3 linked regions of the Homo sapiens genome follow. The protein of the gene in region 1 interacts with the protein of each later gene in a biochemical or structural test. Each region holds a gene or a part of one and is shown in the gene's direction. Other genes may lie near its edges.

What was found.
Region 2: the proteins of NHERF4 (region 1) and ABCC2 form a complex in vitro, tested with the Homo sapiens proteins (one study listed by BioGRID).
Region 3: the proteins of NHERF4 (region 1) and GUCY2C form a complex in vitro, tested with the Homo sapiens proteins (one study listed by BioGRID and IntAct).

The regions. Positions count from the first base shown.
Region 1 is NC_000011.10:119,178,223-119,190,110, forward strand, and holds the start of NHERF4 (Na(+)/H(+) exchange regulatory cofactor NHE-RF4), read left to right. Parts: upstream 1-7,252; 5' UTR 7,253-7,272; coding exon 7,273-7,288; exon of another isoform or gene 7,289-7,406; intron 7,407-7,413; exon of another isoform or gene 7,414-7,699; coding exon of another isoform or gene 7,700-7,702; coding exon 7,703-7,730; intron 7,731-7,869; coding exon 7,870-7,943; coding exon of another isoform or gene 7,944-8,256; coding exon 8,257-8,468; intron 8,469-9,047; coding exon 9,048-9,237; intron 9,238-9,341; coding exon 9,342-9,478; intron 9,479-9,684; coding exon of another isoform or gene 9,685-9,696; exon of another isoform or gene 9,697-9,717; coding exon 9,718-9,922; intron 9,923-10,066; coding exon of another isoform or gene 10,067-10,098; exon of another isoform or gene 10,099-10,132; coding exon 10,133-10,329; intron 10,330-10,417; coding exon 10,418-10,645; intron 10,646-10,782; coding exon 10,783-10,983; intron 10,984-11,240; coding exon 11,241-11,270; 3' UTR 11,271-11,888. Other genes in the region: NLRX1 (NLR family member X1 isoform 1 precursor), read left to right, coding at 1,471-2,066, 2,949-3,035, 3,872-4,123, 4,896-5,217.
Region 2 is NC_000010.11:99,848,335-99,856,754, forward strand, and holds the end of ABCC2 (ATP-binding cassette sub-family C member 2), read left to right. Parts: intron 1-2,267; coding exon 2,268-2,462; intron 2,463-3,167; coding exon 3,168-3,297; 3' UTR 3,298-4,260; downstream 4,261-8,420. UniProt on the Homo sapiens protein: ATP-dependent transporter of the ATP-binding cassette (ABC) family that binds and hydrolyzes ATP to enable active transport of various substrates including many drugs, toxicants and endogenous compound across cell membranes.
Region 3 is NC_000012.12:14,613,849-14,624,813, reverse strand, and holds part of GUCY2C (guanylyl cyclase C precursor), read left to right. Parts: intron 1-2,616; coding exon 2,617-2,809; intron 2,810-3,597; coding exon 3,598-3,772; intron 3,773-5,058; exon of another isoform or gene 5,059-5,076; intron 5,077-5,440; exon of another isoform or gene 5,441-5,504; coding exon 5,505-5,603; exon of another isoform or gene 5,604-5,662; intron 5,663-8,086; coding exon 8,087-8,181; intron 8,182-9,870; coding exon 9,871-9,947; intron 9,948-10,243; exon of another isoform or gene 10,244-10,292; intron 10,293-10,965.

The DNA.
Region 1 (11,888 bases):
CGTGCCACAAAACAACGTCATGGTTTGTTGCCAGAGGAATGACCCTTCTTCCCTTTCAGAACCATTGCAGGAATGGGGGAAGATATCACAAACCCCCAACATTTATTTCTTTGTCAGATATTTGAGTGCCTGCTGTGTGCCAGGCAATGTGTTAGAATCTGAGGAAATGTCAGTTAACAAAACTACAGGTTTCAGCCCTTTCTGATCTAGTCTGAGCTCCTCTCCCAGAAGGAAACTGCTACTTCCTGCACAGTTTGAGCACAAAAATATCAATGTAACCATATAAGGAAAAATTACAGCAAATGCCTGGGAAGAAGGAGCCCCAGATGCCATGAAAGTGTATAGTGGGGGAACTGGTCTGCGGGGTCAGGAGAGCCTCTTTGTGGAAGGGCATGTCGTCTGACCCTTGTAGCATTAGCCAAAGGAAGAAGTTGGGGGAGGGGAAATGCCCCAGGAAAGGGCAGCACCCTGGAGGCTTTTTTTTTTTTTTTTTCTCTTGAGACAGGGTCTTGCTCTGTTGCCCAGGCTGGAGTTCAGTGGTGTGATCTCAGCTCACTGCATCCCTGACCTCCAGTGCTCAAGGGACTACAGGCACATGCCACCATGCCTGGCTAATTTATTTTTAATTAAGAAAATTTTTTTAATAGAGATGGCATCTTGCTACATTGCCCAGGCTGGTCTAGAACTCCTGGGCTCAAGTGATCCTCCCACCTCGGCCTCCCTAAGTGCTGGGATTACGGGCATGAGCCACTGCACCTGGCCTATGGAGGCTTTGAAGGAGGAAAAACCTTGGCACTGTTAAGATGAAAAAAGCCGAAAGGGCAGGAGCATAGCGAGTGGGGCCAAGAGGCTTGTGATGAAGGCATCGTAGTCGGCAGGGCCCAGATCACACAGGCCCTTAAAGCAGTAGGAACTGCATGTTGAAGATGGTGATGTATTTGTGATACCTAGCCCGGTCCCAAACTAAGTGTGTAATACATGCTAATTCCTTCTCACCACCTCCTGGGTTTGAAAATGTATCAGGGTGTTTGGGAAAGAGAAAGAAGTTCCTAATGTCTGCAGCACATGAGACAGGTGTTGAGAGATGACCCTGGAAAGGTCAAATTAGGGCCAAATTATGAAAAGTTTTGGGCCAGGTGCAGTGGCTTATGCCTATAATCCTAGCACTTTGGGGGGCCTAAGCTAGGGAGCCCAGAAGTTCAAGACCAGCTTAGGTGACACAGCAAGACCCCATCTCTAGTTTTAAGAAACGTTTCATATTCCAGGCTAAATGTTTGGAGTTTGCCACATAGGCAGTAGGGAGCCATGGAAGGTGTCGCAGCAGGGGAGTAGCATGATCAGACAAATTATGCTAAGTTCAAGGGGAGATCACAGGGCTGGAGCAGTCATGGGAGTGTACCTTAAGCTGAACCTTGAAGGCTGAACAGGCACATGGAAGGCCACAGTGACTCTCCCCTGCTTCTTTTTCAGGTGGTTCCACGAGTGTTTGGGCGCATGGTGGGTAAAAGCCGGGAGGCGGTGGCTCAGGCCATGGTGCTGGAGATGTTTCGAGAGGAGGACTACTACAACGATGATGTTCTGGACCAGATGGGCGCCAGTATCCTGGGCGTGGAGGGCCCCCGGCGCCACCCAGATGAGCCCCCTGAGGATGAAGTCTTCGAGCTCTTCCCCATGTTCATGGGGGGGCTTCTCTCTGCCCACAACCGAGCTGTGCTAGCTCAGCTTGGCTGCCCCATCAAGAACCTGGATGCCCTGGAGAATGCCCAGGCCATCAAGAAGAAGCTGGGCAAGCTGGGCCGGCAGGTGCTGCCCCCATCAGAGCTCCTTGACCACCTCTTCTTCCACTATGAGTTCCAGAACCAGCGCTTCTCCGCTGAGGTGCTCAGCTCCCTGCGTCAGCTCAACCTGGCAGGTGTGCGCATGACACCAGTCAAGTGCACAGTGGTGGCAGCTGTGCTGGGCAGCGGAAGGCATGCCCTGGATGAGGTGAACTTGGCCTCCTGCCAGCTAGATCCTGCTGGGCTGCGCACACTCCTGCCTGTCTTCCTGCGTGCCCGGAAGCTGGGGTGAGGACCTATCCTCATGCACAGGCATGAAGAGGGAAGAGGGTTGGAGGTGAAGAAGTGGGAAAAGAAAGTGCCAGGGAAACCAGAGGTACCGATGAGTGACCAGAAGGTGGGATGAAGAAGTCTAGTTTAGGGGCCGGGAGCAGTGGCTCACACCTGTAATCCCAGCACTTTGGGAGCCCAAGGCGGGCGTATCACCTGAGGTCAGGAGTTCGAGACCAGCCTCAACATGGAGAAACCCTGTCTCTACTAAAAATACAAAATTAGCCAGGCATGGTGGTGCATGCCTGTAATCCCAGCTACTTGGGAGGCTGAGGCAGGAGAATTGCTTGAACCTGGGAGGCGGAGGTTGCGGTGAGCTGAGATCATGCCATCGCACTCCAGCCTGGGCAACAACAGCAAAACTCCGTCTCAAAAAAAAAAAAAAAAGTCTAGTTTGGGTGGAGGTGACAGGAGCAACAGAAGGGAGGAGCCAGGCATGGTGGCTCCTGCCTGTAATCCCACTGCTTTGGGAGGCCAAGGCAGAAGCATCACTTGAGCCTAATAGTCTGAGACCATCCTGGGCAACATAGCAAGACCCTGTCTCTACAAAAAATTAAAAAATTAGTCAGGTGTGGTGGCATGTAGCTATCATCCCAGCTACTCGGGAGGCTGAGGTGGGAGGATTGCTTGAGCCCAGGAGTCTGAGGCTGCAGTGAGTTGTGATCATGCCATTGTGCTCCAACCTGGGCAACAGAGTGAGACCCTGTCTCTCAAAAAAGGGGAAGCAGGTATAGATTCCCAGAGGCAGGCTGATGAAAAAAAGGCATGGTAGATGGACAGACTGCCTGCTGAATTCCCTCCCTGGTCTCTCACCTCCCCTCTGGCCACCTTCTGCTCCAGCTTGCAACTCAACAGCCTGGGCCCTGAGGCCTGCAAGGACCTCCGAGACCTGTTGCTGCATGACCAGTGCCAAATTACCACACTGCGGTGAGTGACCTGGGAGTGGGGCATCCTGGTGGCCAGCTAAGGTCAAGGGTGAGCTCCCTGCTTCCTGACATACTTGGCACAGACCCACCCAAGGGATAGTAAATGGAGGAGAGTCTAGGCCCTGACCTGTCCCCTCCACTTCCCCCAGGTCCACTGCAAGCAGCAGGGCAGCAGGGAAACATGCCACCTGTAATGGGTGCTAAGAAACCTCTCACGTGGCTAAAATCAGCCTGGGGGAGGTGGGGAGAGAGGGTGGAATAATACCTAGGCCGGTTGCCTGGTAACAGTGCCACTGATCCCCTCCCAGGATTTTTCTTGCAGCCTCCCGAGGAGGACCCTAATGCTGGGCACTCAGTAGACACCCCTTAAGTGTTGACTGATATGTGGGGAACCTGAGCTCCTGGGTTCCCAGTTTCTGATTGGTGTAAGGGGAGGCAAATGAGGAGAGAAAAAGGAAGAGCAGGGAGAAGGATAGGGGAGTCAGAGGGGAGGGAGAAGCAGAGGCTGTGGAGGGGGTGAAAAAGGCAGAAAAAGGGAAACGGAAATGGTGAAAAGGAAGGGAATAGATAAGAAGGGAGTCAGGGGAAGAGGGAAGGAAAGGCCAGCTCCCCTACTCTGACTCCTCTGCCAGGCGCCACACCCCCTATTGCTCCAGCCTTTCTCCTGGGCCTGCATTTCTATGTCCAGGTTCCTCTTGCCCCATGCAGGGCCCTCTTTGGCCCAAGTCCTGACACCCAGCACAGGGCTGCCCCATTAAGGCTGCCAGTACCACCCCCAACCTTGCCTCCCCCTCCTCTCAATGAGCCCTCATAACCTTGGGTTGCACGTGGCTGTAGGCTGTCCAACAACCCGCTGACGGCGGCAGGTGTTGCCGTGCTAATGGAGGGGCTGGCAGGAAACACCTCAGTGACGCACCTGTCCCTGCTGCACACGGGCCTTGGGGACGAAGGCCTGGAGCTGCTGGCTGCCCAGCTGGACCGCAACCGGCAGCTGCAGGAGCTGAACGTGGCGTACAACGGTGCTGGTGACACAGCGGCCCTGGCCCTGGCCAGAGCTGCCCGGGAGCACCCTTCCCTGGAACTGCTACAGTGAGTCCTGTCCCTGGTCCCATTGCCCCCAGCCCTTCAGACTACTTCCCTCTCTCAACTGTGCTCCTCCAATCCTAGGGAGTGCTTCTGGGCCTGGGCCTGGTGCCTGTCCTTTATTCCTGGTTTCTGACTGATCCTTGTCAACCTAGCTCTGAGCCAACCCACCCCCTCTGTGACTGGCGCTTAAACTGCACCAATTCCCTACCACCATTTCTCCTAAAGCCCTACTGTCTCTGGTCCCACTGAATTCTAGTATCAGGGTCGGCTGTGGTGGCTCACGTCTGTAATCCCAGCACTTCGGGGGGCCAAGGCGGGCACATCACCTGAGGTCAGGAGTTCAAGACCAGTCTGGCCAACATGGTGAAACCCCGTTTCTACTAAAAATACAAAAATTATCTGGGTGTGGTGGTGCGCACCTGTAATCCCAGCTACTTGGGAGGCTGAGGCAGGAGAATCACCTGAACCCGGCAGGTGGAGGTTGCAGTAAGCCGAGATCATGCCACTGCACTCCAGCCTGGGTGACAGAGCAAGACTCCATCTCAAAAAAAACAAAAACAAAAACAAAAACAAAAACAAAAAAAAAAAAGAATTTTAGTATTAGTCCCTGCCTCCCACTGGCCAGCAGCCTCCACCTCTGGCTCATTGCAGTTACCTGATCGCACTCTGCAGCCAGGAGATGAGTTGTGAGGCCCCCTGACTTTCCATCCATCTACCCTCGGGCCCTCCTTCTCAGAGCTCTACTGAATGGCATCGACTTTCTCTCTCCTGCCAGCCTCTACTTCAATGAGCTGAGCTCAGAGGGCCGCCAGGTCTTGCGAGACTTGGGGGGTGCTGCTGAAGGTGGTGCCCGGGTGGTGGTGTCACTGACAGAGGGGACGGCGGTGTCAGAATACTGGTCAGTGATCCTCAGTGAAGTCCAGCGGAACCTCAATAGCTGGGATCGGGCCCGGGTTCAGCGACACCTTGAGCTCCTACTGCGGGATCTGGAAGATAGCCGGGGTGCCACCCTTAATCCTTGGCGCAAGGCCCAGCTGCTGCGAGTGGAGGGCGAGGTCAGGGCCCTCCTGGAGCAGCTGGGAAGCTCTGGAAGCTGAGACACTGGCGGCAGGCACCTAGCTATGTGACCACTGGCCCTAAACCTTTTCCCTCTGTGGCCTCCTGGCTTGCACTGCTCCCTCTAGAAAGATTCCTTCAGGTCTGGAGGCAGAGGAATGGGCATAGCTGAGCCAGTTGCCCTCCTAGGGCATGTTTGACCAGGACTGAGTCTGGAATCTCCAAGTTAAAGATGGTGAATCAATGCTTCGGGCTTGGAGATGGAACATGCCTCCTCTCCATTCAGCTAGAAGGACCAAAGCATGTGGCATTTGGATGGCCAGAGTGCCCTGAAGCACCACTACCAACCTTGCCTCCCCCTCCTCTCAAAGAGCCTCTGACTGTGTCACCAAGGGGCTCACATCTTATGTCTGCCATGCCAGGGGTGTCGCCATCCAGATGTGTTGGAAGCTTCCCCTCCTGCCTTATGCTCACCTGTGGACACCGAGGATGCCCTCACATTGGTGCTTTCTCCTCATCCTCATGCCCCCTTTGCCACAATGGTATGATGGCTTGGTAGCCCCTCGAGGCAGATGCACCTGACTTGCTGCTATTAAAAAGCCGTGTGCCTTCTACCAATTGTGGCCTCTTCTTTACTGCCTGGTGCTTCCAAGAAAGGGCACTGTTCTTGGTCTTTCTGGTTAAACTACCAACCATGATCTATTGCAAGTGGTTCTTGGGCACTAGGTTCAGAGGCAGTGGAGGCTGGAAGGGCCCATGAACAAGATATTGGCATGGGGGTTGGCCATGCTGGGCTGTATTAGTCCAGTCTCACGCTGCTAATAAAGACATACCCAAGACAGGGTAAGTAATTTATAAAGGAGGCTGGGCATGGTGACTCACGCCCGTAATCCCAGCACTTTGGGAGGCCGAGGTGAGCGGATCACCTGAGGTCAGGAGTTTGAGACCAGCCTGACCGACATGGATAGACCTCGTCTCTACTAAAAATACAAAATTAGCTGGGTGTGATGGCACATGCTTGTAATCCCAGCTACTCGAGAGGCTGAAGCAAGAGTATTGCTTGAACCCAGGAGGTGGAGGTTGCCGTGAGCCGAGATAGTGCCACTGCACTCCAGCCTGGAGAACAAGAGTGAAACTCTGTCAAAAAAAAAATTTATAAACGAAAGAGGTTTAATTGACTCACAGTTCCACATAGCTGGGGAGGCCTCACAATCGTGGCAGAAGGCAAATGAGGAGCAAAGTCACATCTTACATAGCAGCAGGCAAGAGAGTGTGTGCCGGGGAACTCCCCTTTATAAAACCATCAAATCTCATGAGACTTATTCACTATCATGAAAACAGCACGGGAAAACCTGCCCCTGTGATTTAATTACCTCCCACCGGGTACCTCCCATGACACGAGGGAGTTATGGGAGCTGCAATTCAAGATGAGATTTGGGTAGGGACACAGCCAAACCATACTATGGGCCATAGAATTATCACCCTTTTCACACTTACCCCCCAGGCTTGGAGTTAGTGACCAGCAATCTGCCTTTCTCTGCACAGAGGGGCAACTGGGTCAGATTCAGGGTCTCCAGAAAAAGTTGGGGCCCAGGGATAGATTCAGGAGGAACCCACACAGTTTTCCAGAGGATAAGACTCTCAGCGGGGCACGGTGGCTGACGCCTGTAATCCCAGCACTTTGGGAGGCCGATGAGGGCAGATCACCTGAGGTGGGGAGTTTGAGACCAGCCTGACTAATATGGAGAAACCCCATCTCTACTAAAAATACAAAATTAGCCAGGTGTGGTGGTGCATGCCTGTAATCCCAGCTACTCGGGAGGCTGAGGCAGGAGAATTGCTTGAACCTGGGAGGCAGAGGTTATGATGAGCCAAGATCATGCCATTGCACTCCAGCCTGGGCAACAAGAGCTAAACTCGGTCTCAAAAAAAAAAAAAAAAAAAAAAAAAAAAAAAGACTCTCACTCCCGTTAACCATTACCCCACTGCTTCCACAGCGTCTTCAAGGAGGCGGGACCTGGGAGGGGATGGGTGGGAGGATCAGTGGCTGTGATGAACCTTGTCCCTACCCCGGGCACTGGGTTGCTGATCCAGCTATGGAGAAAGCCGCAGGTAGGAGGCCAGGAGAAATCCTCTGCAGGGGACTTTGGGACAGGCAGGGGGCCGACTTGGAGGCTGAAGCTTTGGGACCAGGGCACACTTGATTTTGGGGCTTGGAGCCCTGAGGCAGGTAAACAAGTCAGGAGAAAAGTAATGAGTTGATATGTCTGTCTTCCTGGTCCACACCCTGTACTGATATGCTCAGATTTATGTGCCAAGGACTTGGGGGGAGAGAAAGGGAGGGGACCGCACAATAGTCCTGTGTGTATGGCAGTGAGAAGAGAAGACCCCTTTGGAGCAGAAAGGAGGGGGCATGCCCTGAGTTTGGGGGTTTCCCTGAGTCCTTTTAGTTTATGCCAATGGAAGAGGCACATCTGGGGAGAAGAATGTGACTCTCCTCCTCTCACCCACTTCTTTGCCCAGTAGATCTGCAGGACACAGCCTCGTTAACTCTGTAAGTGCCACGAGGGTTGGGGCAAGGGGAGGAAATAATTGGAGGCAGCGAAGCGCTTCACTGCCATTAGCACCTAAAGGAGATCCTGGGACCCAAGTCCAGCTGCCAGCTTGTACCTGCTTCCCCTGCCTCCTTGCAGGAAGTTTAAGTTTAACCCAAAGCTGGGCATTGATAATCCTGTCCTCTCCCTGGCCGAAGACCACGACCCCTATGGTAACTCCCTCACCCCCTGGCAACCATTCCCTATCCCTGGAGGCACCACGGCTCCACACGGCCTCCGATCTCCTTGGTAACCACTCACTCGGTCTCCCTCTGATAACAGCCTTGGTTGGGAGTAGAGATAGGAGGGGCCGGGTGTTTTCTCCTGTCCCAGTCCCTCTGCCCACGAACCCCACCACCCAACACCCAACCAGGCAGAAACTGCCCAGCACCCTATCAGGACACAGGGTCTGCCAGGCACACGGCGAACCTGTACTTGGGCTGTGCCCTCTCCTCCCCCTTTTCTGCTGCCCACCTCACCCTCCAGATCCCTGGAGCCTGGAGCGGCCTCGCTTCTGTTTACTGAGCAAAGAGGAGGGCAAGAGTTTTGGCTTCCACCTGCAGCAGGAGCTGGGCAGGGCTGGGCATGTGGTGTGCAGGGTGGACCCAGGCACCTCTGCCCAGCGCCAGGGTCTTCAGGAAGGAGACAGGATCCTGGCGGTGAACAATGATGTTGTGGAACACGAAGACTATGCGGTGGTAAGGCTGTGGTCCAGGAGAGCATGCTAGCACCTCAGAAAGAGAAGCGGGTTGCTCAGTCCCCTGGGCAGTATGGCAGCAGGGCACAAGCCTCACTCCCCCACACCCCAGGATTTAGAAGTGCCCAAGTCAGAGGGGTAGGGAAAGCATCTAGAAAGCCGATTCCCGCTGGGCGCAGTGGCTCACGCCTGTAATCCCAGCACTTTGGGAGGCCAAGGCAGGTGGATCACCCAAGGTCAGGAGTTCAAGACCAGCCTGGCCAACATGGCAAGACCCTGTCTCTACTAAAAATACAGAAATTAGCTGGGCGTGGTGGCAGGCGCCTGTAATCCCAGCTACTCGGGAGGGCTGAGGCAGGAGAATCACTTGAACATGGGAGGCGGAGGTTGCGGTGAGCTGAGATCGCACCATTGCACTCCAACCTGGGCGACAAGAGCAAAACTCCATCTCAAAAAAAAAAAAAAAAAAGAAAAAGAAAAAAAGCCGATTCCCTTGGCAAAAAAATGTGGATTCCAGGGAGGTCCTGGGGGTTGGCAAGAGGGTCTAGACCAAACCCACGCCCACGTGCCCTCTGTCCAGGTGGTACGCCGCATCCGGGCCAGCAGCCCTCGGGTGTTGCTGACAGTATTGGCACGGCATGCACATGACGTGGCCCGAGCTCAGCTGGGAGAAGATGCCCACCTCTGTCCCACCCTAGGCCCAGGGGTCCGGCCCCGGCTGTGCCACATAGTGAAAGATGAGGGTGGTTTTGGCTTCAGTGTCACCCATGGTGAGCCCAGAGGGTGCGAGGGGGCGGCAAGGATGAGGGATCTCAGCCCCTGTTCAGGGCAGGCAGGAAACAGACTGGACCTTGCTTTTTTTTTTAATTTCTAGGCAATCAGGGTCCTTTCTGGTTGGTGCTAAGTACTGGAGGAGCAGCTGAGCGGGCAGGGGTGCCCCCCGGGGCCCGGCTGCTGGAAGTGAATGGGGTCAGTGTGGAGAAGTTCACTCACAACCAACTCACCAGGAAGGTGTGACTGCCTGTCTCCCACTCTCCTCCCCCAATCCGGGCCTGGGCCCCACCTCGGGAAGACGCCTCCTTCCCCATGCGCCTAACCTCCTTATCTGGTCTCCTACCTTTATCACCATCCTCCCCCTCTACAGTTTGTGCCAGGCTCCACTTAGTGCCTGGGAGGAGGGGCTGTGGGGGGAGCATACCTCTTCTCTCCCTGCCCAGGTGTTATACTGATGCCCTGCTGGGTCCCCACAGCTTTGGCAGAGTGGACAGCAGGTGACCTTGCTGGTGGCAGGGCCAGAGGTGGAAGAACAGTGTCGCCAGCTGGGATTGCCCCTGGCTGCACCCCTGGCAGAGGGCTGGGCACTGCCCACCAAGCCCCGCTGCCTGCACCTGGAGAAAGGGCCCCAGGGTTTTGGGTTCCTGCTCCGGGAGGAAAAGGGCCTTGACGGTCGCCCTGGTGAGTGGGAGCCCTGGGGGCGGTGGGGGAAGGTGGGCCTTGGGGTGGGCACACAAGCGTATATACACCTTTCAGTGCACCGAAGAGGTGTCCCTGTCTGAGCTCTGGCCCTGGGCCGCCTCTTCCCGTTCACTCTGGGGTCAGTCCCCTGGTGTGTACACAGTGGCCTAGGATAGCTGGAGAGGAGCAGTGAGGATGTCTATGCCCCAGGACAGTTCCTGTGGGAGGTGGACCCGGGACTGCCAGCCAAGAAGGCTGGGATGCAGGCTGGGGACCGGCTGGTGGCTGTGGCTGGGGAGAGCGTGGAGGGGCTGGGCCATGAGGAGACAGTGTCCAGGATCCAGGGGCAGGGCTCCTGTGTCTCCCTCACTGTCGTCGACCCTGAGGCGGACCGCTTCTTCAGCATGGTGCGTGCTGAGGGGCAGGGGCTAGGGTTGGGGCAGGAGTGGGGCAGGGCTGAGGTCCGAAAGATTTGCTCTCCCTGCCACCTTCCAGGTTCGCCTGTCCCCACTCCTCTTCTTGGAGAACACAGAGGCTCCCGCCTCGCCCCGGGGCAGCAGCTCAGCCTCACTGGTTGAGACAGAGGACCCTTCACTTGAAGACACAAGCGTGCCTTCTGTCCCTCTTGGCTCCCGACAGTGCTTCCTGTACCCTGGGCCTGGTGGCAGCTATGGCTTCCGACTCAGTTGTGTGGCCAGTGGGCCTCGTCTCTTCATCTCCCAGGTGACTGATGCCCCATGGATCTTGAATCCCTTCGATCCTTTGCTGCCTGATCGGTCTTCCTCTGCTTCCCTCCCAGAGCCTAAAGCCAGCAAACTTTCCCCCGGTGTCCCCTGTTCTGCATGCCCCCACAACACCAGGTGACTCCAGGAGGCTCAGCTGCCCGGGCTGGGCTGCAAGTGGGAGACGTGATTCTGGAAGTGAACGGGTATCCTGTTGGGGGACAGAATGACCTGGAGAGGCTTCAGCAGCTGCCTGAGGCTGAGCCACCCCTCTGCCTGAAGCTGGCAGCCAGGTCTCTGCGGGGCTTGGAAGCCTGGATTCCCCCTGGGGCTGCAGAGGTGAGGAAGAAGAAACAGATGGGACTGTGAGTAGCTACAGAGGGCAGGGAGGAGTGAGAAAGAAGGGCAGAGTGGGCGAGGTACAAGGTGAAGCCGTGTGGGGTATGCAGGTTGGGACTTCAGGTCGTGGTAGGTGGGGACAGAAGGACTCGTGAAATAAACCCCATTTCTGGGCATTCCAGTGCAGGGCGGGGCAAGAAAAAGGAACTCTTCTGGGTCCCACCTGGAATGACCTTCTACCTCCTCTCTCTGTATAGGACTGGGCTCTGGCCTCGGATCTACTGTAGAGCACCCCTGCTTGGTACAGACATACTCAGGGGCTACCGTGTCTTCACTCTCCAGCCTGAGGTGGTGAAGGCAGGATGCTCTCTCTAAGCCAGACCAGAGGGACTCAGACACCACCGATCACAGGCTGGCCCAGGTGCTCCCTCCCTTCCTGCAGGCCCACCTGCCAGCAGAGGGTGTGGTTGGAGGCCTCAGACAGGTCCCTGAAGGAGTCTGAGGCTCCAGAGGATGTCATATGGGAGTTTTAGAGAGCTGTGTCCCAAGGATGAAGGTGTGGCTGTGGGTCTGGCTAGGATTGAAGCCATCTGGACCTTTTCTAGATATGACTCCAGGACCCTTGAGTGTAATGCAAAAATTTGGAGACCAGCTATGCCTGCCCTCTGTGGGTGCCTTAGCATTGCGGGAGGGTGGTGCTTGGTCACCGTTGCATTTGTTATAGAAATGGCCATTCGCCATAAATCTGACTGCCTGTGTTTGTGTTGGTGGGGGTAAGGGGCAGTGGTGTGAAGGGACCAAAAGGGCCTCAGGCTCAAGGGGTGGGATGCGGCTCCTGCAGGAGAGAGGTTGAGACCTGGTCAAATTTATTTCCTATCAATCACTGAATCTCAGGGATAATGGGT
Region 2 (8,420 bases), on another chromosome or scaffold:
TGCCTGTCCATTAATAAGTTGATCTGGCATTTTTCCTGTAACATTTTTGTTTTTCCTTCCACACACTGAAGTTCTGCCCTCAGCCAAAGCCCACTGCTCATGGACAGGTCTTGCTCCTGCCCCAGGGGCCTCAGTGGTGGTAGGCAGGGAATAGGCCGTTGGCAAGTTGAAGCTCAGGAAGGAAGGGAGGGCTCAGTAACTGATTCAGGGGCCAGCCACTCTGGCTTCACCTGGGAGCTTGTTACATGTGCAGAATCTCAGGGCGTAGACCTACTCATCAGAATCCGCACTTTAGCAAGATTCCCAGGTGATTTGTGTGCACATTACACTTGAGAAGCACTGCCTAGAGTGTTGTGATTAACTAGGCTGCAAGCTAAAATCACCCAGGAAGCTTTAAAGCTCCCAACGCCTAAACTGTAGCCCAGACCAACTGAATCGGGGACCCAGGTGATTTTAGTGTGTAGCCCCAGGGAACAAGCCCTGGTAGAGAACATCGTCAGTTTACTTTCCCTCCACAACAGATCTAGCAACTAGCAGGACTCAAGTAGGTCTTTAGGCCAGTGTAAAAGATCATTCAAACATTCAGTCAGCAAAAATGTAATAACACCGGCCGGGCGCAGTGGCTCATGCCTGTAATCCCAGCACTTTGGGAGGCCGAGGCAGCCGGATCACCTGAGGTCGGGAGCTCGAGACCAGCCTGACCAACGTGGAGACACCCCATCTCTACTAAACATACAAAATTAGTGGGGCATGGTGGCACAGGCCTGTAATCCCAGCAGTAATCCCTCAGGAGGCTGAGGCAGGAGAATCGCTTGAACCCGGGTGGCGGAGGTTGTGGTGAGCTGAGATTGCGCCATTGCACTCCAGCCTGGGAGACAAGAGCGAAACTCCGTCTCGAAAATATATGTACACCTACTGTGTGCCAGGTACTGAAAATACAGAGGCAAACAGAGACACAACCCTGACTTCCTAGCATTTACAGCATAATGAAGACAGACCTCTGTCAGTAAATGCCAGTACAGTCTGTGCTACAGAGGGTACATTTGGGATGCTATGGTAGGGTACAATGGGAGGCCTTGACATTTCTGGTTTGTAAAAACAAAAATCATGCCATCTTTCTCCTGTCCAAGCTGAGAGATGCTTAAATGGTATTACCAATGCCTTGATTTCAGACCTGAGTTTCAAACCTGGCCTGGGGGACTAAAACTTACATTTCTCTGTTGAATGATGGGTAAGTTCAGCTTGGAGAGAGCAGCTGAAAGACAAAGTGGCGCCTCAGCAACAGTCTGTTACTCTAAAGTCCAAAGTCTACGTTACACTTTGGGCCAGGCAGGAGTTTGGTACAAGCTAAGTAAATAGTTTTTCAGTGTCTCTGATCTTACATTACAGGGGAAAACTGGAAGTTCATCTTGGGTGACTTCTCATCTCCTGCAGAAATTTTCTTACAGAGAATTACAGCACTTTGGCCACCCCCTGTTTAATATGTTCCCTAATGGCCACAGCAGGAAAGAGCAATTAGCAAATTCCTGAATATTTCCTTCACATCATTTCCCAAAGCTTCTTTATGTTAGGTAAGAGGTCCAGCCTTCATTACAGGCTTTTAGCAAATTAAAGCTATTTGCATTTTAGAAGCATATTTGAATTCCACATACATTGCATCTCACACCAAGACATCACGTTCATTAGACAGCTTCATCTCTAATCAAAGCAGAAGGCCTTGAACAAATAATTAGCCTTGAGGCTAGAATTACACATTAAAATAATAAATTGATTTGCTAAGGCCACAAAGAAATGCCACTGGGGCATTCTAGTGTTGCTCCACCCTATATTAATGGCTTCAGGTCAAATGCTGCTAACGTAAACTTGGTGACACTCATGTTGTTTTGGAAATGTTGATGTCACGGCAACCAAATACAAAGCATGGTTCCTGGGCCATTGTTATCCAAACTTGTTTAAGCATAAAAATGGCCTGGGGTGCTTAGTAAAAAGGCACCTTCCTAGGCTCCTGCCCGCTCTGATTGAGCAAAGCAAGGGCCCAGAAATATGACTTTTTAATTAAGTACTTGGGGTGGGTCTTCAATTGGGAAAGTTTGAAAAACGATGCTCACAGCAGCAAGGTACAGCTAGTTGAAGAGGCCCAAACATTCCAGGGGAATTTTGGAGGGGGGGTTTTGAAAGTCTGATCTGGAACATGAAAATGGTCCCCCTGCCCTGCGTCTTTCCTTGGTCTTTAGGAGCTAACACATGGTTGCTTCTATTGGCTGCAGCATAGGCCAGAGGCAGCTGCTGTGCCTGGGCAGGGCTCTGCTTCGGAAATCCAAGATCCTGGTCCTGGATGAGGCCACTGCTGCGGTGGATCTAGAGACAGACAACCTCATTCAGACGACCATCCAAAACGAGTTCGCCCACTGCACAGTGATCACCATCGCCCACAGGCTGCACACCATCATGGACAGTGACAAGTGAGTGTAGGGGGACAGGGCTTGACACGGATGGCTTAACCCTTGCTCAACAGTAACAGTGTCAGCCGGGAAACACCTGATGGCAGAAGGTTTAACCACCACCACATTACTGATGAAGAAACTGAGACTTAGAGATGTCAAGTAATCTGGCCAAAATTTTACATCACGCAAATGAAAACGAACAAGGTTAAGGGAACTATTCATATCTTGAGGGCAAAATAGGAAACTGTGTGTTGTAACAATTAACTGGGTATGGGGAGGTGGAAGCTCAAGCCGTGAGAGGCAGATGTTGACCATAGACCTTCCTAACTGTCCTGAGCCTCAGCTGCTGCTCTGTAAAACAGCCAGAAGCTTTCTATTCCTTCCAGCTGTGTCATATTACAATCAAAAGTCAGTAATCTTAGAAAGCTGTTTGGAGATGATAGGCACCCTTTGTAAACCAATCTATCCTTAAACAATGTGCACTTCTTTTAAAAACTCATGTAAATGGACTCATACTGCCTGTATTCTTCTATTACTTGATTCTTTTGTTCAATATTATTTGCAGAATTCATCCATGTTGATGTGTGTAGCTGTGGCTCATTGATTTTCACTGCTTTGTAGCCTTGTCTGACTATACCACAACTTAGTCCTGGTTATTCTTATAAATGCCTAGACTTGAGATGCTGCTTTCTAAGACTTTTATTTCTTTCTTCCTTGTTTCAGGGTAATGGTCCTAGACAACGGGAAGATTATAGAGTGCGGCAGCCCTGAAGAACTGCTACAAATCCCTGGACCCTTTTACTTTATGGCTAAGGAAGCTGGCATTGAGAATGTGAACAGCACAAAATTCTAGCAGAAGGCCCCATGGGTTAGAAAAGGACTATAAGAATAATTTCTTATTTAATTTTATTTTTTATAAAATACAGAATACATACAAAAGTGTGTATAAAATGTACGTTTTAAAAAAGGATAAGTGAACACCCATGAACCTACTACCCAGGTTAAGAAAATAAATGTCACCAGGTACTTGAGAAACCCCTCGATTGTCTACCTCGATCGTACTTCCTTGCTACCCACCCCTCCCAGGGACAACCACTGTCCTGAATTTCACGATAATTATTCCTTTGCCTTTCATTTCTGTTTTATCACCTTTGTATGTATCTTTAAACAACATATACCCTTTTTTACTTATGTAAATGGACTGACTCATACTGCATACATCTTCTATGACTTGATTCTTTTGTTCAATATTATATCTGAGATTCATCCATGGTGATGCAAATAGGTGCATTATTTTTTTTCACTGCTCTGTAGTCTGGCATTGTATGAATACAGCACAATGTATCAGTTTTAATATTGGGGATCATTAGCATTATTCTCAGGTTTTTAAAAATTATAAGCAGTACTACTATGGACATTCTGGTCTACATCTCCTGGCACATATGTAAGAGTTTCTCTAGGGTATAACCTAGGAATGGAGGGTATGAACATGTTTACATGCACAAACTAGCTGATGCCAAACTGGTAATGCCAACTGAAAACATTGCTGTCAATCTGATGAATATGAATTGATGTATCAATGAGAATTTCATTTGCATTTCCCTAGTATCTATTGGGGATGAATATATTTTCATGTTTCTGGGGCATTTGCATTTCCACTTGTTTTTTAAATATTGTGTCTGATAATTCCAATGTCTGGATTCTTTGTTTATCTGTTGTTTCTGTTGGTTTTTACTCATGGTATTTTATTTCCTTGTATGTCTTGTGAATTTTTATTATAAGCTCGTTCTCCTTAAAACTTTATCTGTGGACATTCTTTGAGGCCTAAGTTGACCGTGAATTCTTCCTAAGGGAATTGGGAATGCTTTAGCCTGCTGCCTGGGGCATTACCCAGAACCTCTTTGAATGAAATTCTTCACTAAGGGGTTTCAAACCACAGTGCAACTTCAGACCACAATCCTGTACAAGAGCCAGCTTGTGATTTACAAATTCTCCAGGGAAAGTGACAGGTTGGAGATAGGCATGGGGTTTTGTTGTTGTTCTTGTTGACTCCTGCATTCTGCATGGCAGGACCTAGGCCTCTTTACCTGTACATTGCAGGTATAACCCTTTCATGACACAGGTTCATCAGAGGGTTTTAGTCTGCACTGTGGCAGACCTTGGCTTTATCTCTTGCCTTGACCTCCTACATTATCAACAAAGTGAGAGTTTAAGATCTCCTGGGCAGGAGATTTCAGAAGCCAGCCTAAGTTTTGGGCCTTCCTCACCTCCTAGGGCCTTTGTGTCAGGTTCTTTTGGGTTCTTCATATTCCTTACCTCCCTTTCAGTGATGTTATGATAAAGATTTTGATTTATTCAGCATTTCACGGTCTGTTTAGTGAGGTGCTTAACATTGAACTTCTGAAATGAAGGGCATATAGCTAGTGTAAGCATACCTCTGGTTTGCCCTGAATAGTTATGGGTTACATCTGTTTTCCCAAAACAATAATAGCTCCCCCTTTCACACACGCACAAAAATTGTCTCATTTGTATGATAAACTTGTGTGCCTCCTACACATAGCCCTGTGAATTCGATTTTGAATCACAGCATGGATGGAGATCAACAAAGTTGTATAGATATTGAAGTGTTGGCTGGGGGGGCGCTATTCATGGAGAATCCCCTCCTTAATTCTGCAAACCAGATCTAGTACATTGTGAATATTCTATAATCATTGGCTATTTTTTACAGCTAGCTTTTCAGATCTATACCTGCTTATGTACATGAAATGTAGCTCCTGTAAATTGCAGATTAGTGTATATTAATCTAAGATGCCATCAACTGTAAAATACCTGTTATTTTCTATACCACGAAGAAAGGATACTGCCAATTAAACTTTGGTATGCATTGTTGGTAAAATGCATCCTATTTGTGGAAAAAAATTAGCATTTTAAGATTAATACAATACAATACCTGTAAAGCTCTATAAGAGCTAAGTCATGTCCTTTATTTCTGCTATTGATCCTTGTTCTTTTTTCCTGATTGTTCCAGTCTGTATTGCTCTTTTAATCCAATATCATCGTCATCATCATCAGCATCATCATCATCATCATCACTTCCCTTATCTCTTTTTCTCAACTATTTCACTGCTAGGTAGCTAACTACTGTTTTTACCATCTATTCTTTCTAATCATTAGAATTTCAAAAAACTGCTTTTTCCTTTTTTTTAGTGGTGTTTTTAAAATTTATTTATTTATTTTTTAGTGTTTATTTTGAAAGCACATTCCATACACGCGTACTTTCCAACTTGCTTCTTAAATGAGTTTTTAGATATAGAGCATTTAGAGGGGCAGGAGGAACTTTGGAAAACAAAGGAACTATTTACGCTGACTGCAGAAGCCAGAGAAATGCAAGCTAGGTAAAGCACCAACAGTAAAAGTGAAACTAAAGGAGAAGCCTGATATTTTCTCAATTTGTTTCTCAAACAAAATGGTCCAGGCTGATGTCGATATAGTTATCACCAGAGAACTTTGAAGATTATCAGCCATCACTTATTTATTTAGCTTCCAGTAAATGTCTGACACTGTGCCAAAAATTTTTTAAAAGCTATCTAGGGCGGGTGCTGTGGCTCACACCTGTAATCCCAGCACTTTGGGAGGCTGAGGTGGGTGGATCACCTGAGGTCAGGAGTTCGAGACCAGCCTGGCCAACATGATGAAACCCCGTCTCTACTAAAAATACAAAAATTAGCCAAGCATGGTGGCACATGCCTGTAATCACAGCTACTCTGGAGGCTGAGGCAGGAAAATCACTTGAACCCGGGAGGCGGAGGTTGTAGTGAGCCGGGATCACGCCATTGCACTCCAGCCTGAGCAACAGAGCAAGACTCCATCTCAAAAAAAAAAAACAAAAACAAAAGCTACCTAATATAAACTAAATAAAGATTACTTTCCATTGTGGCCTAATTAATAACCCTTTCACAAGCTTTATTTCACTTACCGATTTCAGGGACAATTTTAGATAACTACCTAAAACCTATACATTCCCAAATTCCACCATATCTTCACTGTTTTTCACTGATCTTTTGGGCACTTTCTGTGCCCTTCCCAATTCTTCTGGGTGCATGGAATCATAGTGTTCAGAAGTAAAGGTGCCTATGCCCATCGTTAGGCTACTATCTCTCAGTTTCAAACCTACCCTTTTAGATTTTGCTCTGTGATGCTGGGACTTATAAGTCTCATTTCTGCTTTGCCAACTATTCCTATTAAGTTCTGACAATAGGAGGTGCTGGAGGGACACTGGACGCAGCCTGGATGAGGAAGAAAACGTGCTCCTTCTCGTTGGCTCTGTTGCTATTAGCATCACTCTAACAGTTTCTCTGCAGCAGCAGTTCTCACAAGTAGCCACATTGATTTTAGTTTGCAGTTTTTCAACATTCACAGAAAGTGTCGTCAGGCCCAAAACCAACACCAGCTGAGCAGCGTCCCCTTTTTCAGAAGCAATAAACAGACTGAAAGAAAACAAACTAATTTTACATTGATACATTGGCACAAACAGGAAGAATAAGTCTATAAAAATATAAAGAATAAACCTATAAGAATAAACCATCAGGCCTACATTTCTGGCAGAATAATTTTGCATAAGCACTTTTGGAAACATCCTCAGAATAAATTTGTCCTGTTTATATAATAGAATGAGAATACATTTAACCACAAATGCATACCGATCATGAATTTATTTTAGAATTAGCAAACAATATTGTACAAACATTGGTATTTAAATCTCTAAGCTCCTGCAACTTAGATTTAGTTAGCAAAGACTATATTCTACTCTGAGTTTGGTCTTCCACATGGACTAGACACTAGACTGGTTTTTTGAAAGGTTTCATATTGTTCGAAAATACCATAAGTAGGCCAGGCACAGTGACTCACACCTGCAATCCCAGCACTTTGGGAGGCCTAGGCAGGCCGGAATGCTTGAGCGCAGGAGTTCGAGACCAGCCTGAGCAACAAAGTAAGACCCCGTTTCTATAAATAAATAAAAAAAAATACAGAAAGTTAGCCAGGTGTAGTAGTGCATGCCTGTAGTCCCAGCTACTCAGGAGGCTGAAGTGGAAGGATCGCTTGAGCCCAGGAAGTCGAGGTTGCAGTGAGCTGAGATCACACCACTCCATTCCAGCCTGGGTGACAGAGTGGGACTCTGTCTCCAAAAAAAAAAAAAAGAAAACATCATAAGTAAAAGATTGTAAAAATGCATAAAACAATTGGCTGTAAAAAGCACTCCATTGTCATAGCCCTCCTTTTAATTTCATATGCAAGTAGTTAGTTATGCTGTAGAATTTAACTGTTACAATATAAAAAGCAACTATTTATGGAAAAAGTAGAAAAAAGGAGAAAATGGCCAGGTGCAGTGGCTCACACCTGTAATCCCAACACTTTGGGAGGCTAGGCAGGAGGATCATTTGAGCTCAGGAGTTCAAGACCAGACTGGGAATATATGTATGGCAGTGTTTCTTTAAGGTAAATGAACATAAAAATAGAGTTTCAGGAAGAGAAGAAAAACTAGGCTAGTTTGGTTCTTACTGAATTTTGAAAATGAACTACAATAGAGCTCCTTCTTCAATTCTAACAATCAAGGCCTTGGTCACCATATTGGTAATCTCTTGATTAATCCTCTTGATTCTCACTTGATTTCCATCTGGCGATTATGCCTGACAAACACTATCACGGATTTCGGATCCATCTGCCCTGTTCCTTGGCAGCCATCTTTGGGACAATTACTTGCTGCTCAAGCCTGGAGACCAGGGTTGTCCAATCTTTTGGCCTCCCTGGGCCACACTGGAAGAAGAATTGTCTTGGGCCACATATAAAATACACTAACACTAATGATAGCTGATAAGCTAAAAAAAAAAAAATCGCAAAAAAAATCTGATTATGTTTTAAGAAAGTTTACAAATTTGTGGTGGGCCACATTGAAAGCCATGGGCCACATGCGGCCCA
Region 3 (10,965 bases), on another chromosome or scaffold:
GCTTTTTTCCTAGCCTTAGTTCAATATGCCACTTGGACTACTAGTTGGTAGATGTTTTTATTGGATTTCCAAAGGTTATATCACACAAGTCTCTTGAAGAGCTACAATACACCATGGCTTCAGCACAACTCACTTTGGTTATTTATGTAAAAATTTTATGCGCAAGATAAAACTAAAACATGCATGAGCAATAACTAGAAGAATCAAAAAGAAATATGTGTAGCAAAGGGCAAATAAACTTAAGATTGCATGTAGGAACCAGATATCACTTAGACATTTATTTGAATAGTACCCCTTGGGGTAAATACATTAAAATAGAAGTTTCTTCTTTTTTATTTTTATTTTATTTAATTAATTAATTTATTTATTTTTGAGATGGAGTTTCACTCTTGTTGCCCAGGCTGGAGTGCAACGACATGAGCTCAGCTCACTGCAACCTCTGCCTCCTGGGTTCAAGCAATTCTCCTGCCTCAGCCTCCCAAGTAGCTGGGATTACAGGCGCCTGCCACCACACCCAGCTAATTTTTGCATTTTTAGTAGAGAGGGGGTTTCACCATGTTGGCCAGACTGGTCTCGAACTCCTGACCTCAGGTGATTCACCCACCTCGGCCTCCCAAAGTGCTGGGATTACAGGTGTGAGCCACTGTGCCTGGCCAGAAGTTTTTTCTTCTGGGAAGACTTTCTAAGAGATCTACTCTGTATACTAATTTTATCTATGTCAGCAACAACCTGTTATCAAAGCTCATCATGTTAACTCCCAGCCCTTCCTTCGTTTATTTACAACATGAGTTTCTCTCTCTGGATAACACACTATTTTCCAAGTGTAATAGTCCATTCTCACCCTATTATAAAGAACTACCCGAGACTAGGTAATTTATGAGGAAAGGAGGTTTAAATAACTCACAGTTCCACAGGGTGTTCAAGAAGCATGGCTGGGGAGGCCTCAGGAAATGTACAACCATGGTGGAAGAGTGAAGGGGAAGCAAGCACCTTCTTCGCATGGCAGGAAGAGAGAGAGAGAGCAAAGGGGGAGGTGCCACACACGTTCAAACAACTAGATCTCATGAGAACTCACTAACACAGGAACAGCAATGGGGAAATCTGCACCCATGATCCCATCACCTCCCACCAGGTCCCTCCCTTAACATTGGGGATTACAATTCAGCATGAGATTTGGGTGGGGACACGGAGCCAAACCATATCACCAAACTCATGTGACTTTTCAGATATAAGCAGTACAATGAATTGCAAATATGGCAGAATATCCAATTTTGTCATTGCATCTATGCAGCCTCCAAAATACTATGCACTTTATACAGGGCATGTCAAGAACAACCACTCCAGTCGTGTACCTAGGAATCCAAGCCACACCAAAGGAATGTTTTTCAAAGGTTCCAAGTTTTGTCATTGCACCAATTAAAAAGGTTTCTCCGGATACTCTGGAGGTTCTCCAAATGAGTGTTAGAAATCTTTGTGGTTGATTGGTTGTTTTCTTTCCGGGAGAGCCCACCTCCTTTGTTGCAGTCAGCATACCTCCAAATCTTCCCCATCTTCCTGAATATCCAAGGCCTGGGTTGTGCAGGGAGTGTAATGCAAAAAAAGACTGATGGGTGGGACTGAAGGCTTCCTGAATTCTAGCCCTGGCTCTGTCCCTAATCGGCTGTGGGAACTTAGGGAAGTCATACTTTTTTAGACCTCAACTTTCTCATCTGTAAAAATAAAGATTTCTTTTCAATGACTTCCGTGGAACCTCCCAGCTTCCAGTTTCTGATTCTAGTGGTTCCATACTGAGGGCCACTACAAAGTGATGCCAAGGACAGACAGGGACCATCCCACTTCATGTCAGCCCTCACTTCCTTTTCTCAATGAAGAGGTAACTTGGCACACCAAGTATGGAGTCCCTTCTTCTGGTTCTCTTCCTTCAATCTTGAATCTGATATGCTGCTCCTCATTCAGCAAAGATATTCTAAAAGTTGCTTTAATTTGACTTCTACAGTTTTAGCATGATTTAATTTATTTACATGATTGATTCTGCTTTACAAAGGACCCAAATCTGGTTCAAAATATCAAATGAACTCTGGTTCAGAATATATCAAAATTTATATTTAAATGCATCATTATTTCATAGTAATATTAAGCAATGCCATATTACATATGCCAGGAAAGTAAAACTATCAACTTTGTTGAGAAATTCAGATCTGATACCTGTGGTGATTTAAGTAATACCACACTCTCCTCAGCTTCTGCATGTAGAGCCACATCTGTAAGAGGTTGATTATCAATAGAGAAGCAAAAAGTGGACAAGTATGTATATGTATGAGAGTTTTGAGGATATTAAAGTTATCTATTTATGTGTATTAGGATTAATAATCAAACACTAAGTTAATGTTGAACCTGCTTGTATTCATCTGTGTTCACAACATGCATTATATGTGTATTTGTGTAATATGTTCATGTATATGATATACACAACCTCTGTTTCCGATTCACTCAATTCACTGGAAGTCTCAAATTCTAGAATTCTTGGTAGACAATCACTACTACCTGAAAGATTTATGTGAAACAAGAAGAAATTTGCTGAAGTTGAAGGCATTTTTTTTCCCTTCGTTCATCTAGGCTAGTGGTAAAGTCTCTGAAGGAGAAAGGCTTTGTGGAGCCGGAACTATATGAGGAAGTTACAATCTACTTCAGTGACATTGTAGGTTTCACTACTATCTGCAAATACAGCACCCCCATGGAAGTGGTGGACATGCTTAATGACATCTATAAGAGTTTTGACCACATTGTTGATCATCATGATGTCTACAAGGTAACCACATCACCTAACAGGCTGAAACCATTAATTGTACAACTCAAGGTCATCAGAGCCTGAATTGGTTGTTTCTGTTACTACTCTTGACCGCTCTAGTTTCACATTTAGTGAATTGGTGGTTGAATCTGAGCTAAAAGTGAAGAGAAGTAGAAGGATTAGAGGAGTGAGAAGTCAAAATTACCATTCAACTTTAAGAAGCAGCAAAAAAGATACAACAGGAAGTTCAGCAGGAATTAATTTGAAGTATTAAATTTAGACAAAATGGCATACTCTTAAATCACCTCCAAAAAATGGGCAGTGTTTAGGCTGACTGCAAATGAAGCAGAGAAGACACTGGGGTTATAATAAATAGAAAATCATACTACAAGAATGTATACAATTACATATTACAAAGTACAATATTCTGTTAAATAGTATGTTGACATTTGCTAAAGGATTAATTTTCAGGAAACTAAGGGTGTTCCTCAAATTACATAAAACCATTCAGATTATTTATTTGAACATTTCTAGAACTGTCACCACATCTGGACAATTTATATAATTATGAAGTACTTTTAAATGGCTAAATTCCTTTATAGCTATTTTATCACCCATTAACTGGACTATAAAAACCCTGAAGAAATCAGCATAGAACTGATCCAACTGGCCCCAGAAAAAGTGTAAAGGGCTATGCTCATACTGTGTTCCCAAATCACTTTTTGTGTTTGACATGTGATTAACTGCTTCTGTTTACTTTCTATACTTTTCAAAGGGGCAGAGGCACTCATGAGAAACTGTTTCCACAGGTGGAAACCATCGGTGATGCGTACATGGTGGCTAGTGGTTTGCCTAAGAGAAATGGCAATCGGCATGCAATAGACATTGCCAAGATGGCCTTGGAAATCCTCAGCTTCATGGGGACCTTTGAGCTGGAGCATCTTCCTGGCCTCCCAATATGGATTCGCATTGGAGTTCACTCTGGTATGGAGTTGAGCATCTTAGCAAATTGGGAACCATATGTACTGCTGTGCACCAACTAAATCAGAAAGGATAAAAGGTCTTCAAGTGTGATCGACCTCACATAATTTTTACTCTTAATTCTTTTTGCCAAATGTGAGGTCCCACTATGCATCCTGAGATATTTAGACCCAGTTCCTAGAGAACTCTAAGAACAAGACCTTTGAGGGCACCACTGACTGCTGACATGATAAACACCAAACATGTACGAAAACAAGAAGCTTTGGACTCCTATTTAAATCACCATACCTATGATTTCATTTATTTCCTCCCCATTCCCTTTCTCCCCACCCCCAACTTCAATATATTTTCCCACTAAAATATTATAGTATCTTAAGTGGATTAGATTATCTACAAGGGGAAATAAAGAACAGATGGTGAAATTTCTATAATATTTATACCCCCTCCCTTCCCTGCCACTGCAGTTATACAGAAAGTACATGAGTCACTTTCAAAGACCATGAAAGTTACATAGCCTTGTTAAAAGAAAAGCTTATGCATATTAAATTTAACACAGTTTGATTGAGCAAAGAATAATTTTCAAATCAGATGGCCCTTAAAACCAGAAGAGGTTCAGAGAGCTTCAATGGGCAAGGTGGGCGGGCAATGTTTATAGACAGAAAACAGAAGTGAGGGACAGAAACAACTTGATTGGTCAAACCTCTGTGTTCCCCTGATTTGGTCAAAGTCCCATCAGTTGACAGCCTGTGACTGGCTGAAGCTCAGCTACTGCGATTGGCTGAGACTCAGCTATCTATAACGTAAGTATACCCTAGTTAGGCTTTTAGTTTGTTTATGTACCAAGCTAGGTTGCAGTTTGTTTTGTAGGGACCCCTAAGAGGCAGCCTCAGGCCAAACTTAGTTTAATTCAACAGCCTTGAACATCAAGGTTTGAGATGAGTTACAGGTGTTATAGAAAAAACACCTGTAAGAGAGGAACTCAGAAGTCATCTAGATGAATCTTTAGCCAGGCATTGCTTAAAACTCAGCTTTGCAGTTTTTGAGTTAATCTTTAACTTCTGAAACTGTTAACACCTTGCACTCAGTCATTCTATGCAAATACATGACTGAATAACCCTTATTTCCTACCTAATATGCCACAGCGCATAGTCTAGCCTGGGCTTTTGTTCTGCTTGTTGGAACCTCCTTGTGCCACAGGCTTCCCCATCCAGCTGCATTCGCCTGGTCCATGAAATGCTTACGGAAAGTTATGCCTTTGTCTTGTCTTCTGTCTTCCATTGTCATGGCACCAATCCCAGAAATGCCACCTTAAAATAAAAATAAAACAAACTTGAGCCATTGAAGCTTCAAATCTACAGTGCCCTCCAGCAGTGTGAAATTCAGGGTTGTGTGGTTTGGCACAGTAAGCAAGCAGTGGGGCTCATCTTCATCCTTCCTGAGAGCCTTCTATTTAAAATCACCTTTGTGATCTGGATCTCTGAATGCCTTCCTATTTGCTACAAATGTCGTTTTCTTTGCGAGAGCAAAATACTTTATGATCGCATGCATTGAATAATGATGCTTCATTGGATTCATCCATTTAAACCAAAAGTCCCAGCTCACATTTCACATCCTCAGCTACTTCTCCATGACAGGAAGTATTCAGGATTGTGACCATACAGAGAGGCTTACCTGTCTTCACTCTACTCTGCAATTTCTATTGCCTCCACTTCCTGCTTTCTGTCCTTCATTTCAGGTCCCTGTGCTGCTGGAGTTGTGGGAATCAAGATGCCTCGTTATTGTCTATTTGGAGATACGGTCAACACAGCCTCTAGGATGGAATCCACTGGCCTCCGTAAGAAGGGAGACTGTTTTTCTCAGAGGACAAAGATGCTGTTTTCCAGCAGAGGGCAACTGTGAGATAAAATGCACAATAAGGAGATACAAAGTGCCAGTGAGATGTAGAATAATTCTTCACATTAGCTGAACACAAACCCGTGTCAATCCACCTTTTGCTACATTTGCTTTCATTGTTGTTTACTGATAATTATTTTATTCTTCCACTTTTGCTCAGTTTTAGACTATTTCTATATTTTTGGCTCATATACAATGAATCTGGGGATATTCTACTTAGAATAGTCCTGGCATTTACCATAGATTCATGAAAGTTAAAAAAAAATCAGTAGGCAAGGTAAGAACTACACACTCTGGTTCACATTCCTGTTTCCCTCTTATTTGGTTTTGCTTTTTTGTTGTTGTTTTTTAGAGACAGGCTCTCGTTCTGTCACCCAGGCTGGAGTGCAGTGACACGATCATAGCTCCCTGTAAACTTGAACTCCTGGGCTCAAGTGATCCTCCCACCTCATCCTCCCAAGTACCTGGGACTACAGGAACATACCAGCACATCCAGATAATTTTTAAATTTTTAATAGAGACTGGGTCTCACTATGTTGCCCAGGCTGGTCTCAAACTCCTGACCTCAAGGAGTCCTTCCACCTTGGCCTCCCAAAGCATATTCGTTTTTTCTGGAAATTGATTTTTGTTTATTTGTTTGAGATGGGGTCTCACTCTGTCGCCTAGGCTTTGGCACAGTGGCACAATCACAGCTCACTGCATCCTTGAACTCCTCAGCTCTAGTGATCCTCCCACCTCAGCCTCCTAAGTAGCTGGGACTACAGGCATGCCACCATGCACAGCTAATTTTTTAATTTTTTCTGTAGAGGTGTGGTCTCTCTATGTTGTCTAGGCTGGTCACAGATTCCTGGGCTCAAGCAAGTCTCCTGCCTTGGTCCCCCAAAGCCCCAAAGTGTTGGAATTACAGGCAAGAGCCATCATACCCAACCAAGAATTGATTTTAGTAAAGAAAAATCTAAGCATTTGTTATATACGAAGGAATATATTGCATTTGCTTGGCAAGGTAGAGGCACAATGTGCTGCATGAAGTAGATGCTCAATAAATATTGATGACAGTGGTAGCAGTAGAAATATATAGAAGAGAGAAAATAAGCACTGGGAGACATGGCTGGGGCTTACGAAACCACAGGAGGCAGGATGGTATTTTGGTAGTGTACTGACAATGTGATACTAGTTTGTCCTGGCAAATCATGCTGGCAAGGAAAAGGATAAGGTTGGGGTCAGACAGACTTGGGTTACAATTGAAATTATGTTAATCATTCTCAGTATAAGTTGAGTAGAAAGCTACCTGATCCTTCTAGCCCTCAGAAAGATAAAGATACAAATTGAAAATGGAATACCAACCGTGCCAAGAGGGTTTCTGAAATAATTTGGGATGATGTCATGTTAAGCGTTTAGCAATCATGGTACATGGTAGGTATACAATTTGGGATTGTCATTATTCTTACTGTGTAATTGTTTGTGGTATTGCTATTAGGCCCCTATATTGGGAAAGGTGATACACATCAATGGACTTGTGAATGGGCGTGCCCTCACCACTTCTTTTGTCAAAGGATAACAATGTTCCAGAAGAAGGAAATTTGAGAAAATCAAGACCCCTCAACTCTCCCGAATCTTCACCTTGCCCACAAGGCTTTAGCTATTTATTGGAACTTTTCCACAGGGACCCAAAACCAAACTCCAACACCCAAGCTTGGCACTACAAGCCAAATCTAAAACTAGGTCCCGCAGGCTACTACTCTGAGCTGGAATGAGAATCTATGGAGAAAAACCTAGGGATCCCCATCACATCACGCAGGGCCCTGAAAACTGATGCCAGGCCTTCTTTCTTCCCACGTGAGATTATATTTCTTGTGTGAGGGCATTCTTGCATTGCTATAAAGAAAAACCTGAGACTGGGTTATTTATAAGAAAAGAGGTTTAATTGGCTCATGGTTCTGCAGGCTGTAAGGGAAGAATAGCACCTGCATCTGCTTCTGGGGAGGCCTCAGGAAGCTTTCACTCATGGCAGAAGACAAAGCAGGAGCAGGCACTTCATACAGCAAAAGCAGGAGTAAGAAAGAGAGTGGCAGGGGCAGGTGCCACACCTTTTTAAATGACCAGATCTTGTGACAACTCAGTATCGCAAAGACAGCACCAAGCCATGAGGGATCCACCCCTGTGACCCAGACACCTGGTCGGGGGCCAGGACTCCAGCACTGGGGATTAAAATTCAACATGAGATTTGGGTGGGGACAAATATCCAAACTATACCATTTCTTATCTCTCTGATGTTATTTTTAAGTGTTCTTTCATTAAAATAGCCACAATTGTTTCTTCTTGATTTAGGATTCTTGTCTCAGGTGTTGTTGATATCCTGAATCAACGGGAAACAAATAGGCTGTGTACTAGCTGGGATTTTTATTTGTCAATTTGCATTTCCAGCTTTGAGAATTCACGTGAGTGGCTCCACCATAGCCATCCTGAAGAGAACTGAGTGCCAGTTCCTTTATGAAGTGAGAGGAGAAACATACTTAAAGGTAAGGAGTCCACAGAGACAATGCATAGGAAAAGCTCTCAGACACGCTTGGGCCACCTCCTTTGAGACTTGGCCAGGAAAGTTGAGCATGCTAATCCTCTTCTGTACTCATCACGATGAGCACCCTCCATCCTCTGCAAGAGAAATGACCACCAAAAAATGTGAACTCAAAACTTGCCTTTACTCCAAAGAGCCCTTTTGAGATTTTGAACTCTGCCAGCATTTCCTCTGCCATATCCAGGTTTTGTATCCAGTTCCTCCTCCAAACACAAGAGCTACATACAGTCTGGTCCAGGACTTATTTAATTTGAATCAAAACCCTTGTCCCCCCACTTACTTCCCTACTCTTACTACACACTGCTGCTATGATCTGAGGTCACCTCTCTTGCCAGTTGCTTTACTATTCGGAAGCTCTAGAATCACAAGGAGTGAATGACAAGGTGTGGCCCCATTCTCCTCCTCTTCCTCATCTGGAAGCTTGTTAAAATGCAGATGTGTGGACACTCTACCAGGCCTACTATGCAAGATTCTCTGTGGGCGTAGATCAGAAATCTATATTTTTAACAAGATAATGTGTTTGTGACCACACTAATATTTGAGAATCGCTATTCCAGATTCTTCATGCAGTTCCTCACATTTAAAACAGCTGCCCTCCATAGCCATCAGTTGTCTCCAAATGCTTCTCAGGCTGCTTTTCCAAAGTTATTGGAATCTTTTCACAACTGGCAAAGCCAGCTATTAACTGTAAGTTACCTGTCTCCGGTAGCCATAATGCTTCTGGCCTTTACATTTGGATTGCACCTTGGAAAAGTCTCCTTTTACGTAAAAGTGTCCTAACATCACACTTGCTTTTTGAGTCCTCCATAAGTACATTTTTTACAAAGAACACTTACCCCAAAATAGAACCAGTTTATGGATTGCTATGGTCCAAACACAGCCAGTGAACCACTACTTTTTTAAATGAGTTTAACAATATATATCAATTATATATATATATATATCAATCACTCATTTTTAAATTATTGATATATATTATAGATATATATTATTAAACTCATTTTTTAAAAATAGTGGTTCACTGGCTGTGTTTGGGCCATATGTATTTTGTATCTCTTTTTCAAATACCAGCTTTAGCAAAAACAGGGTTTCCAGTATTCCAGTAAATTTCCATACATTCCGTAGCCTCCAGATGGGCCCCAGAAATGCCACTTAATGAGTTCTTAATTGTGATGTACATGTGTTTGTAATAAGATAGGGAAACTGTAGCAAAAGTTTTGTAGCAAAACTTTATTGCAAAAAGGGCTAGAAGGAAATATGGACAATGACAACCAGTTGGATTTGTTGACGTAGCAGAATTGTAGATGAATTTTCTTCCTTTTTAAGTTAGAGTTCTTGTGATGTTGCTAGAGTGATATTTTAAAATGTCTTTTGGGGAAAAAAAAGAAAACTCTACTTTGAGAAAAGGATGTCTGCTGAATGAGAAACTTATTTTTAAAAAGGCACTTGGAAATAAAAATCTGTCTAGAGATAATGCAAATCATAACAGGAATGTGTGATGTGCTTAAATATTGGCACTGATGAGAAATGCGGAAGTGAAACATGTCACAGAAACAGATCATTATGGAAACAGTGGTCTACAACTGAACTGACTCCTTGGACTCCGTGGTACGTAACTCTTTTGTCTTACCAGGGAAGAGGAAATGAGACTACCTACTGGCTGACTGGGATGAAGGACCAGAAATTCAACCTGCCAACCCCTCCTACTGTGTAAGCTTCTGGGTGTGGCAGGGACAGGGAGGAAATTAGAGATCTTGGCTTTGTTAGTTACAGCCAATTTAAATTGGCAAATGCCTTACAAGTGGCATATATTGCATAAGAAGTAAGGGACTATACATGAGAAGGTTTAGAAACCTCCCTTCCTAGACTGCAAGAAGGGGATTATCCTGAAACCCTGCATTTTCCTGAGACCTCAATGAAACAGAAAAGTATTTAGCCTTGGCTTCCCTGTCTGGAACACAGACTTGCTTCCCTGAATCAGATGTGGGGGCTCAGTATAAAACTACCTTTTTTTTTTTCCACTGTGGATCCTTTATCCCAAGAGGGAGCTTCCACCTGGAAAAGAGGAAGAATGAACAGACTATTTAGAACTTGAGGAGATTTTGTTATTTCATTTATTTCATTTTATTTACTGGCTCTGTATTCATGATATTTTTAACTGTCAAAATTATGTTTTAAATGCCTTATCTGCATTAAAGTATACTTAACTTATAGTTTATGCAGAAAATATACTATATATTAGACAAGAATGAGTTAAAAGTTTCCTGAGTCTGGGTATGAGCTTCTACCTATTCTGTCCACTTTCTTAGACTGTACCAGTCATCATCTTGTTCTTGCTGAAAAACTGACTATATTGCCCTGCAATAAAGCATGGCAAAGCTAGCGTTGTGTTCCAGGCTTGCTCGGGAGAACAGAAGACACTTTAGAGTTCACTTCATGCATGTCTTGTTCTGACAAGAGTGGAGCATACTGGGGGCAAAGAGGCTCTCTGCATTCCACTCCTGTCTTCATCTTTCTGTTGAGTTGCCTGATGAAAACAGGACCTGCCCCAACCCCAAGACTGCGGTTCTGGGTCTTAACATGAAGTCTGTGTTCTCCCTGAGATGAGGAAGACAAAGTTTCAGGGTTAACTGACAGGTTTCACTTCTCCTAAAGGTGACTCAAGCTGTCACCCAGTTGCCTGTCAATACATGTTACTGCAGCCATATGGCCATTTCCTTGGCTTTTG